Regions from separate parts of the Homo sapiens genome. Here regions 1 and 2 are each linked to region 3. The links come from fine-mapping of genetic effects on gene expression. A gene starts in region 3. Each other region holds a variant in brackets. All regions are shown on one strand. Distances are between the middles of the regions.

What was found. PIP is the estimated chance that this variant, and not a neighbour inherited with it, causes the effect.
Region 1: its variant is the best candidate, but not a certain one, in a credible set for the expression of GCC2-AS1 in lymphoblastoid cells (GTEx, PIP 0.50).
Region 2: its variant is the best candidate, but not a certain one, in a credible set for the expression of GCC2-AS1 in tibial nerve (GTEx, PIP 0.59).

The regions. Positions count from the first base shown.
Region 1 is chr2:108,460,147-108,464,351 of GRCh38, reverse strand. All of the region lies in intron 4 of GCC2 (GRIP and coiled-coil domain containing 2), which reads right to left. Among named protein-coding and RNA genes, the nearest start is that of GCC2, 13 kb to the right of the region's middle. RefSeq lists an enhancer at 3,309-3,378. The variant GAAGTCTTTGTGACA/A (reference allele first, on the strand shown) is at 1,797.
Region 2 is chr2:108,510,048-108,514,217 of GRCh38, reverse strand. It overlaps GCC2-AS1 (GCC2 antisense RNA 1), which reads left to right. Exons shown (of 3, transcript NR_135290.1): 2 at 2,206-2,288. Among named protein-coding and RNA genes, the nearest start is that of GCC2-AS1, 22 kb to the left of the region's middle. The variant C/T (reference allele first, on the strand shown) is at 2,067.
Region 3 is chr2:108,532,052-108,536,256 of GRCh38, reverse strand. GCC2-AS1 (GCC2 antisense RNA 1) reads left to right here and starts at 2,038. Exons shown (of 3, transcript NR_135290.1): 1 at 2,038-2,428. LIMS1 (LIM zinc finger domain containing 1) reads right to left here and starts at 1,787. Exons shown (of 10, transcript NM_001193483.3): 1 at 1,663-1,787. The coding sequence starts at 1,694. RefSeq lists silencers at 1,542-2,141, 2,630-2,924.

The DNA of each region.
Region 1 (4,205 bases), 72 kb after region 3:
GGTGGCAGCACGGGTGGCAATCTTGCCCCTTCTAACCATGCAGAGGGGTGGCTGAGCATTCTCATGAACCCTGAGGACAAATTCCACTGCCTGCAGCTGCTGTGGCTAAAGACCGCTGTGGGCCGACGCACAGGTGATGCTGCCTACCTATGGCTGCTCCCAGGGGAAGCAACTTCACTCTCCTTAGTCGCAGCGACACAACATGCTGCTGTCTCCACCTGAACATTCTGCTGGTGGCCTGGGACACTCACCCCACCCTTATAAACCACAGCCGGCATCTTTACGCACCACCGAGGAACCTAAGGGCACACAGCCTGTCCTGGCTCCAGCCCCTACCAGTACCTGAGAGCAATGTCCAGGGGACTAGGTATTGTCCAGCCCAGTCCATTACCAGTGGCACCTGCGCACTCAACCTGGGGCCTGAGATAGGGCCCACTTAACCTGCTGCTACCACCACAGCTGGCACTCATTGCCATGCACCACCTGTGGATATGGAGACTGGCCCAATCAACAAATCACAGTCACTGCCAAAACCAATGCTGATCAGTTAGGACCCAGAGGGTTGTCCCACCACTGCTGTTGCCATTTCCCATGCTACATCCACTGCCCAGGGGCTCAAGAACCCACCCAACAGCCTGGCCCACTGCTGCCATTCCCAGCACCTGATCAAGCTACCTGGAGGCTCAAGAATTGGCCTGCTAACACTGGTGCCAGCAGACACACTCTGGGGCCCAGGGACAGGCATGCTCAATCCACAACTACCACCACTGCGACCTGAAGACTGGCCTACTTGGCATTCCAGGCCCCAGCAAAACTTTACCACAGCCTCCACTAACAACTGCACCCTAAGTCACTGATGAAATCACAGACACCACTGATGCTGTTTACAGCCAAATAAGTCATACCGATCCTATGCTATTGCACCCACCTAGAATCAAAGCCACTGTGCTCTACCCAAGCAATACTAAAGATACATCTTCAGGAAAAAGTTCTTCCCTACAAAAGTAAATTAAAAAAACTGGAAAAAGTGACTATTATACCAGATGCACAGATATCAAGGTAAAGGACATAGAAAACATTAAAAAGCATGGAAATATGACATCTCCAAAGGAACACAATAATTCTCTAGCAACAGATCTCAATCTAAAAGAAATTCATAAGATCCTAGAAAAAGAATTCAAAATTTCGATACTAAAGGAGCTCAGTGAGATACAAAAAGTTTCCAAAAAACAATACAAAGAAATCAGAAAAACAATTCAGGATATGAATGACAAATTTACCAGAGAATAGATATCAGAAAAAAAGAACCACATAGAAATTCTAGAACTGAAGAATTCATAGAATAAAAAACAAAATACATTCAAAAGCTTCAACAATGGACTAGATCAAGCAAAAGAAAGAATGTCAGAACTTAAAGACAGGTCTTTTTTTTCTGATATAGTCAAAAAAAAAAATAAGGGTAAAAGAATTTTTAAAAATGAGCAAAGTCGGCCAGATGCGGTGGCTCATGCCTGTAATCCCAGCACTTTGGGAGGCCGAGGCAGGTGGATCATCTGAGGTCATGAGTTCAAGACCAGCCTGGCCAACATGGTGAAACCCTGTCTCTACTAAAATTACAGAAATTAGCTGGGCGTGGTGATGGGCATCTGTAATCTCAGCTACTCACGAGCTTGAGGCAGGAGAATCGCTTGAACCCAGGAGGTAGAGGTTGCAGTGAGCCGAGATCACGTCATTGCACTCCAGCCTGGGCGACAGAGCAAGACTCTGTCTCAAAAAAAAAAAAAAAAAAAAGAAGC[GAAGTCTTTGTGACA/A]TATGCAACTCCATAAAGTGACCAAATATTTATTTATTTATTTATTTTGAGACTGAGTCTCGCTCTGCCCCCCAGGCTGGAGTGCAGTGGCATGATCTCGGCTCACTGCAAGCTCTGCCTCCCGGGTTCACGCCATTCTCCTGCCTCAGCCTCCTGAGTAGCTGGGACTACAGGCGCCCACCACCACACCCAGCTAATTTTTTTTTATTTTTTAGTAGAGACGGGGTTTCACTGTGTTAGCCAGGGTGGTGTCGATCTCCTGACCTCATGATCTGCCCGCCTCGGCCTCCCAAAGTGCTGGGATTACAGGCGTGAGCCACTGCGCCCGGCCTCCAAATATTTATTTGAATTACTGGGGTATCTCAAAGCAAAGAGAGAACAGAAGGATTAGAAAACCTATTTAGTGGCCGGGTGCAGTGGCTCACGCCTGTAATCCCAGCACTTTGGGAGGCCGAGGCGGGCGGATCACGAGGTCAGGAGATCAAGACCATCCTGGCTAACAGGGTGAAACCCCGTCTCTACTAAAATACAAAAAAAAAAAATTAGCTGGGGGCGGTGGTGGGCGCCTGTAGTCCCAGCTACTCGGGAGGCTGAGGCAGGAGAATGGCGTGAACCCGGGAGGCGGAGCTTGCAGTGAGCCGAGATAGGCCACTGCAGTCCGGCCTGGGCGAAAGAGCGAGACTCTGTCTCAAAAAAAAAAAAAAAGAAAAAGAAAAAAAAAAAGAAAACCTATTTAGTGGCCAGGCACAGTGGCTCATGCTTGCAATCCCAGAACTTTGGGAAGCTGAGGCAGGTGGATCACCTGAGGTCCTGAGCTCAAGACCAGCCTGGCCAACATGGTGAAACCCCGTCTCTACTAAAAATACAAAAAATTAGCTGGGCATGGTGGCAGATGGCTGTAATCCCAGCTACTTGGGAGGCTGAGGCAGGATCACTTGAACCCGGGAGGTGGAGGGTGCAGTGAGCCAAGATTGCGCCACTGCACTCCAGCCTGGGCCACAAGAGTGAAACTATGCCTCGAAAACAAAACAAAACCAAAAAATACCAGAAAACCTATTTAGTGAAATAGTGAAATAATACATGAAAACTCACCAAGTCTAGCAAGAGAGGTAGATATCCAGATATAGGAGGCCCAGGTATCCCCAAACAAATACAATGCAAAAAGGTATTCTCCATGGCATATTTATAGTCCACTGCCATAAATCAAAGACAAAGAGAATTCTAAAAACAGCAAAGAGGAAAAAAAAAAATTCAGCAAAGAGAAAAGCATCTAGTCACCTATAAAGGAACCCCCATCAGACTTACAGCAGGTTTCTCAGTAGGAAGCTTACAGACCCAGAGAAAAGAGAAGAGAAAAGAGAATAATATATTCATTGGAGATAAGAGAATGATATATTCAAAATGCTGAAGGAAAAACTCCCAGCCAAAGTGTATTAGTCTGATCTTGCACTGCTGTAAAGAACTATCTGAGCCTGGGTAATTTATAAAGAAAAGAGATTAAATTGGCTCATGGTTCTTCAAGCTGCATAGGAAGCATGGCTGGGGAGGCCTCAGGAAACTTACAATCATGGCAGAAGGCAAAGAGGAAGGAGAAGGAGGCACATCTTACAGGGTCGGAGCAGGAGGAAGAGAGTGAAGGCGAAAATGCTACACACTTTTAAACAACCACATCTCATGAGAAGTCACTCACTATCATGAGAAAAGCAAGGAGGAAGTTCATGTTCATCCCCATGATCCAGTCACTTCCCACTAGGCCTCACCTCCAACACTGAAGATTACAATTTGACATGAAATTTGGGCAGGGACACAAATCCAAACCATATCACAAAGATACTATAATCAGCAAAATTATCCTTCATAAATGAAGGAGAAATAAAGTCTTCTCCAGACGAGCAAAAGCTGAGGGAATTCATTACTACTAGACCAGACCTACAAGAAATGTTCAAGAAGTCCTAAACCTGAAAGTGAAAGGATGACATTTATGATCATAAAAACACACACAAATAGAAAACTCAGTGGTAAAGCAACACACAAATAAGGAAGAGAAAGGACTCAAATGGTACTACCATAAAAAGACAGCAAACCACTATAACAAACAATAAGAGAAAGGAACAAAGAATATATAAAGCAACCAGAAAACCGTTAATATGACAGAAAAAAGGCTCACATATAATTAATAACTGCATGTAAATGGAGTTAAGCTCTCCTCTTAAAAGATACAGGCTGGCTAAAAGGATAAAAAACATAATCCGACTACGTGCTGCCCACAAAAAATGCACTTTCCCTGTAAAGAGACATACAGACTGAAAGTTAAAGCATGGAAAAAGATATTCCATGCAAATAGAAACCAAATGAGCAGAGAGAACAAAAGGATTAGAAAATCTATTTAGTGGCC
Region 2 (4,170 bases), 22 kb after region 3:
AGAGTAGGTTTCTACTTTGGTTATAAGGAATAAAATTCATGCTTTTGTGTACACACTAGACATCTAAAGCAATCAACTATAGTTAACAAGCAGTGCTCTTACCAAAAGGTAACTCTTACTAGAATCCGGCACACCATTTAATATCAGTATGAGCATATGGTGGGTTTAATAATTGTTTTCCATGTTTATAAGTTTTCTTTAGTTTTATAAGCAGTTAAAAAGAATCCCTTTCACTGAAATACAATCTGTGGTGGGACTTCTAGCTTTTCTCAATCTTACGCTGCTAGATTTATGTCACTGCCAAAGCTATGCAATGGGTGATATTTACACTGTGCTCAAACAAAGCAACCAGAAAAACACATATCACTGAATAATACAGATATTCTGAAGTCAAGCAAGCCAACTTTCATTAACAGATCAATTTCCTTAGAAAAGTTGATGAAACCAAAGACTGAAGTTCAAACAAAAAGCGCTCTCAAGGGCGTATGAATTTCTGGTAACTTATGGGGTAAGAAAAAGAGCAAGAAACTTGGAAGTAGGGAAGAGAAAAAAGAAAAGGAGCAAGAGGGGATAGCCAGCTCTCAAAAGTCTCCAATAGGAAAGCAAAATCTGTATCTAGCCAGTACCAACATGTGAAGAAAGAGTGAGCATAGCAAAATTTAGAAAGGTTGCTTGAAAACCAAACAAAAAACCAAACACCTGTAATCCTAGCACTTTGGGAGGGTGAGGTGGGCGGATTGCCTGCACTCAGGAGTTCAAGAACAGCCTGGGCAACATGGTGAAACCTTGTCTCTACTAAAATCCAAAAAAAAAAAAAAATTAGCTGCGCATGGGCTGGGCGCGATGGCTCACGCCTGTAATCCCAGCACTTTGGGAGGCCAAGGTGGGCAGAACACGAGGTCAGGAGATCAAGACCATCCTGGCTAACACAGTGAAATTCCATCTCTACTAAAAATACAAAAAATTAGCCGGGCGTGGTGGCCCGTGCCTGTAGTCCCAGCTACTCCGGAGGCTGAGGCAGGAGAATCACTTGAACCCAGGAGGTGGAGGTTGCAGTGAGCTGAGACCATGCCACTGTACTCCAGCCTGGCGACAGAGCGACACTCGTCTCAAAAAAAAAAAAAAAAAAAAGTCTCTTTTGGCCAGGTGTGGTGGCTCACACCTGAAATCTCAGCACTTTGGGAGGCCGAGGTGGGTGGATCACTTGAGTCCAGGAGTTCAAGATCAGCCTAGGTAACATGGCAAAACCTCGTCTCTACCAAAAACAAACAAACAAAAATTAGCTGGATGTGGTGGTGCACACCTGTAGTCCCAGCTACTTGGGAGGCTGAGGCAGGAGAATCACCTGAGACCGGGAGGCAGAGATTGCAGAGAACTGACACTATGCCAAGGCACTCCAGCCTGGGTTGACAGAGCAAGACTCTCTCTCTCTCAAAAAAGAAAAAACAAAAAGCCTCCTTTAAAAAATGCAGTTTGATGCTATAAATTTATCAGTTAATAGTTTTTGGGGAAAAAAATGTTTTCTGACATTTCAATAAGAGCTATAGACGAAGTCCAGCATTAGTCATCATTCTGGACTAAGTCGGGAAATCTGGAATCTCTTCCCAGCTCTGGGAGGTACAAAGTTTTAAAAAATAAGTTAAGGTCAAAATGTTAGAAAACATTCAATTTATTTCCTTATTAACTCAATTGTTCACTCATAAACGACAGTAACACTTGGTGCTATGGGTCATGCACTGAGGTCAGAACAAGGAACAGAAGAAAATGAGGTAAATTGATAAATCTTTTTGCAGGCTGAGAAGGGAGAGAATGCTGGCATGCCTACTCTGTGCTGGCTTTTTTTTGTTTGTTTGTTTTTGAGATGGCGTCTTATTCTGTTGCCCAGGCTGGAGTGCAGTGGTGCAATCTTGGCTCACTGCAAGCTCTGCCTTCTGGGTTCACGCCATTCTCCTGCCTCAGCCTCCCAAGTAGCTGAGACTACAGGCACCCGCCACTACACCTGGCTGATTTTTTGTATTTTTAGTAGAGACAGGGTTTCACCATGTTAGCCAGGATGGTCCCGATCT[C/T]GTGACCTCGTGATACGCCCACCGTGGCCTCCCAAAGTGCTGGGATTACAGGCGTGAGCCACCGCGTCCAGCCCTCTGTGCTGGGTTTTATGATGTCATCCAATAACTCACAGCTATGTAATTTATTTCCTTTTTACAGATAAAGAAATGGGGGCTCCGAGCAGTCAAGAAGAACATGCCCCAAGTTATTCGTCAGTGAGGCGGAAATTGTGGTGTACTTGTGTAAGTTCACATTTTATACTTTACCATTATACTGTGCTCCAAATTATCTGATATTTACTTTCAAAGCATGTGTAGAAAGTTTACTATGATGATGCAGAGACATTGTACAGAATCCAGTCCCTTGACTCTCAGGTCCCCAGAACACTCACTTCACGATTTTGTTGACCTCTTCTGTCAACTTAAACCTGGCACTCTCTTGGCTGGCTTTCTCTGCTCTTTCTGGGCACTCCAAAGCTTCTGTACTTACATGCTACAATTCCAGTCACAGGAAGATGCTGAGTTCTTTAGTCCCAGATCCATATTCCTGAGAAAACCTAATTGCCTAGGCTCAGGTCATAACTCTGTATCTGTTTCAGTTGATTATGGCTGGGCCTACTGCCCCTCTGTATGGTGGTGGGGCAGAAGTTCCCAGAGAGAGGCAGGGGTGACAGGGACTGTTGTCTCAAATGCTAGGCAGACATCTGGAGTGGTAACCACTACATCTGTTCACAGTGAGCACATCCTTGCAGGGAAACTGGGTTAATCATCTCTATTATTGAAACTCAGAGGTATAGTGTTTCTTCATAGGAATTTTCTTTCCTTATTTGAGATGGGGGTCTCACTTTGTTGCCCAGGCTGGAGTGCAGTGGTGTGTGATCTTGGCTCACTGCAGCCTCCCCTCCCGAGTTCAAGTGATTCTCCTACCTCAGCCTGCTGAGTAGCTGGGACTACAGGCATGGGCCAACATGCCTGGCTAATTTTTGTATTTTTCGTAGAGACAAGTTTTCACCATATTGGCCAGGCTGGTCTTGGACTCCTGACCTCAGGTGATCTGCCCACCCTGGCCTCCCTAAGTGCCGGGATGACAGGTGTGAGCCATCGCGCCCGGCCTATTTATAGGAATTTTCTGTAGGTATATAAGTAATAATTTGAAGGTCCCAACTAGATGCCTTTTCGTGTAACCGTATCTTGAATGGAACATTTTCTTTCTACGTAATTATACATAAATAACCCAATGCTTTTTAATACCCACGAAAAACCATTAGCTCAAAGACACTTGCAAACTTGTATCAGGTTGTTCTCCTTGGTGTGTATTAAGTTTGAAGCAAAGGGGATTTTCAGATACCAAGACGAAGCAGAAGTCTTCCACCAAGTTGAAATCATCACGTTGCAATTTAATCATATGATACAACCAATTTTTTGATGTGTTATGCCATTCGCCAAATACCAAAAATTTTTTAGGGGAAACTTTACATCCTCAATACTATACACTTCCAGCTACACCACCACCTAACAGGGACTTTAAAAAGAATACAAAGTATGGTATGCCTTCTCAGTGCCTTGTTAGTAATTCAGTTACAGTTCTGCCGAACTTTCTTTAAAGGAATACAATTCTCAATCTTACACCGTTCAGAGCACAAGCATAGCTTATTGTATACAAGAGATGTGCATCAGTTCCCACTCCTCAGGGACTGTATGAATTTGGCTTTTTTTTGACGGAGTCTCACTCTGTCACCGGGCTGGAGTGCAGTAGTGTGATCTTGGCTCACTGGACTCTGCCTCCCGGGTTCAAGTGATTCTCCTGCCTCAGCCTCCCAAGTAGCTGGGACTACAGGTGCACACCACTATGCCCAGCTGATTTTTTGTGTGTTTTTAGTAGAGATGGGGTTTCACCATGTTGGCCAGGATGGTCTTGATCTCTTGACCTCATGATCTACCCGCTTTGGCCTCCCAAGGTGCTGGGATTACAGGCATGAGGCACTGTGCTGGGCCAAATTTGGTTCTTAGAAACCAAGGAGTGATGTGTGCACCAGGCCCAGGGCTGAAGAGCTGCTTCTCACTAGATGCCTCTCTTGGTCTGGCTGCTGTGTCCAGTCCTATGCAGGGTTAGCTCTGTTCCTCC
Region 3 (4,205 bases):
TGATGGTTACGGATGCACAATAATTTGAATGAACTTATTACTCTCCCTCCAAAAAGTAAATTACTAATGGTAAATTCAGGATGGGAAGGGGATAGGATGCGGAGAGACACTGGACCAGAGAGGTTTGAAGGTCTTAAAAGGAAACTATTATCTCCTTTATTACACTACATATCCGTTATTCTTAATATCTCACAAATACTTTAAATTTTATATCAACTTACTAGTCAATACTTTTTTTTAAGGAAAAAAGTCCATGATGAAGGAGTACAAATTATTGTTATCAAATCTTGAGCTTTGACTCTTTTTTGTTACTTGTGACCAAATGGCAGGCGTGCACTTCTGTAATAGAGCGATGAGCTGAATTAACTTGCTTGTGTCATGAAATACCATTTTTACGGGAAAGAACAACTGACAAACTAGGGTTATTTAAACCTGTATTGCCGGACACTTCCTTGAAACTGAACAAAGTGAGTCTGTCACTTTGAGGAAAACAATTGACAATATTTTGCTCCCAATGATAAAAAGCAAGCTTTCAACCGAAAATGAGAATTTTGGAAAACTTGTAAACACCACCTTGTATCTGACGGCTTTTAACATAAAGACTTTCCTAATGAAATCAATAGCGATGGTAACGAATGTTATTCGGCGCTATTAATGAAATGCGTCAGCTTGAGATCTGCCAAACTCAGTGAGCCAATATCTTCCAAACGACAAATATATGGTGTTACAATGGGTAACAGCTGCATTCAAACTGCAAGACAGACCAAGGAATTTTAACGTAACTGTGTGCAAAGGCCACTGACAGGAGCTTTAGCTGCATTCAAACTGCAAGACAGACCAAGGAATTTTAACGAAACTGTGTGAAAAGTCCGCTGACAGTAGCTTCAGATTCCACGTCCAAACCAGCCTTTGAGAAACTTCCACTTACGTAGTTTTGGTGTAGTAATAAAGAATACCCATAATTATCTGAAACAGCTATTAAGACAGTACTCACTTTTCCAACTACACATCTGTGTAAGATCAGATTTTCTTCATATAAAAACATACCGCAACAGACTGAACTGCAAAGGAGATGGGAGAACGTAGTTGTCTCTACTAAGTCAGACAACTCAAGAGATTCGCAAACTGTAAAGGACGCCAGTCGTCCCACGAACTCTTTTGTTTTAGCAAAACCCTATGTTGCATAAAAATGTGGTATGTACGTTAACATACCACGGATTTATTCAATGAGTTAATAGTAACTTCAGTGTCTCGGTTTTCCTTTCTAGTACAGTCTATGGAGATAGCCACCATTCCAGGTCCTCTAGTCCCAAGAGGGGTCCTGAGACCAAGACGTCTGCGACCCGCTGATCCCTACTGCTAGAAGATAAATGATTAGCTCGGCAAATACTGATTTGTCTTATGGAACTCTCGGAGCAGCGGGGCGGCGTCAGCGCCTGTGCCACCGCGGACACCCGGGAGTGAACAGCAGCCGTCTCCTCCGCGGGCCCGGACGCAGCCACGCCGCCACCCGAGCGCTGGGGGTCGGGGCTCCGGCCGACCGGGGGAGGCCGCGGGGAAAGCCCGGCCGCCCGCCCGCGCCAGGCCCGGCCCGGCCCGGCCCGAAGGCCCGCCGGGAGCTGCGGGGCGGACGTGGCGGGGGCCGCGCGGTGCGGCCCGTACCTGTGGGTCATCCCGGCCGCCACGCCCAGCATCTCTCCGCTTTCGGCCGCCGCCGTCTCTCAGCCCCTCGTCTCCCGGCGCCGCTCCAGCCGCGTCCTAGTCCCTCGCCGCCGCGGCCGGCTACTGGCGGGCCCGGAGCAGGAAGGGGAGGAAGGCCAGGGGCCGGCCGCGCGGGGGCGCGGGAGGGGGGGGAAGGCGAGGCGGGCCGCGCGGGAAGGCGGGGGAGGGGCGGGAGCGGCTGGGCAAGGAGGGGCGGGGACTGGCGGGGCGGGCGCCGAAGGGCGCGGACTGGAGAGGTAGGCGCGGGGGGGCGGGGCGTTGCGGGGCGGGGCGCGCATCAGACCCCGCCCCAACCCGTGGCTCGGGCCCGCCCCCATTTCAGCACCCCAGGCTAGTCTGGGAGGCTGGCGCAAACGCAGCGGGTGGCTGGGGTAGGGGCTCATTGGGAGCCCACGGAGCGCGGCGGCGGCTCGGGGGCCGAGTTCCCTACAACAAGGATGGCGGTGACGGGCGCAGGGAGCGGGGCCCGGCTCTCCTTGCCTCGAGGCTCCTCTGATTCCACTCGCGTGGCTGCGCGGCCCTGGCAGCGGCCTTCGTCCCGGGGGTGGGAGCTACACAGGGTTCCGCCCCGTCCTGGCGAGGACGCCTGAGGGGGCTCTGTGGTAAGGCTCTGTCGGGCAGGCCGGGCTTCCGGGAGGACCTGGTCTGGATCGGTCACCGCTGGGTGCCTGAGCTCCGCATGGAGCCTGCAGCCTTTGTTTAACTTGTGAGTTAAGAAAAGTTAACCTTTCTTGGAGAGTTTCCAGTCTTGCCTCTGCATCCTGTTCTTCCTTGCTAGCTCTCATTTTCTTCACCCATTCCGTCTATCAAAACCTGAAATTTTGGGGCCGGCGCAGTGGCTCACGCCTGTAATCCCAGCACTTTGGGAGGCTGAGGCAGGCGGATCACCTGAGGTCAGGAGTTCGAGACCAGCCTGACCAACATGGAGAAACCCCGTCTCTACTAAAAATACAAAATTAGCCGGGCGTGGTGGTGGCACATGCCTGTAATCCCAGCTACTCGAGAGGCTGAGGCAGGAGAATCGCTTGAACTTGGGAGGCGGAGCTTGTGGTGAGCTGGGAGATCGCGCCACTGCACTCCAGCCTAGGTAACAGGCTCCGTCCCAAAAAAAAAAAAAAAAAAAAGTGAAATCTCCAAAGGATTTAATAGATTTAATAGATAAGACAAGTTATTCATCCTGGGCATAAATGATCTCTCTCAGGATACCTGATTCTGTAACTATAGCTACTCTCTAGTAATAGAATGAAAACTTTGGTCTCCTGCCAGTCGAGGCATGTCGGAGGAAAACACTGGATCTATTTGATGTCCTCACATGAAAGTAAATTCCAAACAAAGCAAATAGTTAAATGTTCAAAAAACAAAAAAAAAAAAAAAAAAAAAGAGAGAGGTTATGAAAATACCAGAAGAAAACAAGGGAAAAAAACAAAAGTAAGGTTGGAGTGGTGAGAGACTTTTCAAAGAGCATATAAACCATAAAATTAAAAATTGATAAATGTAGGCCGGGCACGGTGACTCACGCGTGTAATCCCAGCACTTGGAGAGGCTGAGGTGAGTGGATCACCTGAGGTCAGGAGTTTGAGACCAGCCTGACCAACATGGTGAAACCCCGTCTCTAATAAAAATACAAAAATTTCACCGGTTGTGGTGGCGGGGTTCCTGTAATCCCAGCTACTTGGGAGGCTGAGGCAGGAGAATTACTTGAACCTGGGAGACAGAGGTTGCAGTGAGCCGAGATCGCGCCATTGCAGTCCAGCCTGGGCGACAGAGCAAGACTCTGTCTCTAAATAAATAAATAAAAATTGATAAATGTAACTACATAGAAATCTAAATTTTCTGCATAGCAAATAAATATAACAAACCCCAACCAAGAAAAATATTTGTAAAATGTATGACAAAAAGTTCTAAATTATTAAAAAAGTTCTAATTATTAAAAAAATCAGTACAAAAATGTTCAACTCAGAGAAAAACAGGTTTCTACAGAAAAATACAAATGATTTCTTAAAGTATCATAAAACAAAAATAAAATACAATTTTTCACAAATGCAAAGATGAAAAGTTTGACTATATATTGTTTTGATGAGGATATAGGGAAACCCTTTTTTCCTCCCCTAGAGGAGGCCTCTCTATGTTACCCACACTGGTCTTGAACTCTTGGACTTCAACTATCCTTTTGAATAGCAGGGTTTACGAGTGCACGTCAGCATGCCTGGCTAATTTATTGTTGATAGGAGTATAAATCCATACACGCTTTGTAAAGAACAAGTGGGCAATAGCTATCAATGTAAAATTCAGCTCTTCTTTGACCCAAGATATTCATATTTTGGAATTTATCTTACAAATGTATTCTTATATGTACACCAAAAGAATGTACAAATTTGGGCATGGTGGCTCACACCTGTAATCCCAGCACTTTTGGAGGTCGAAGCAGGAGGATCCCTTGAGGTTAGGAGTCCAAGACCAGCCTGGGAAGAAAAGGGAGACCC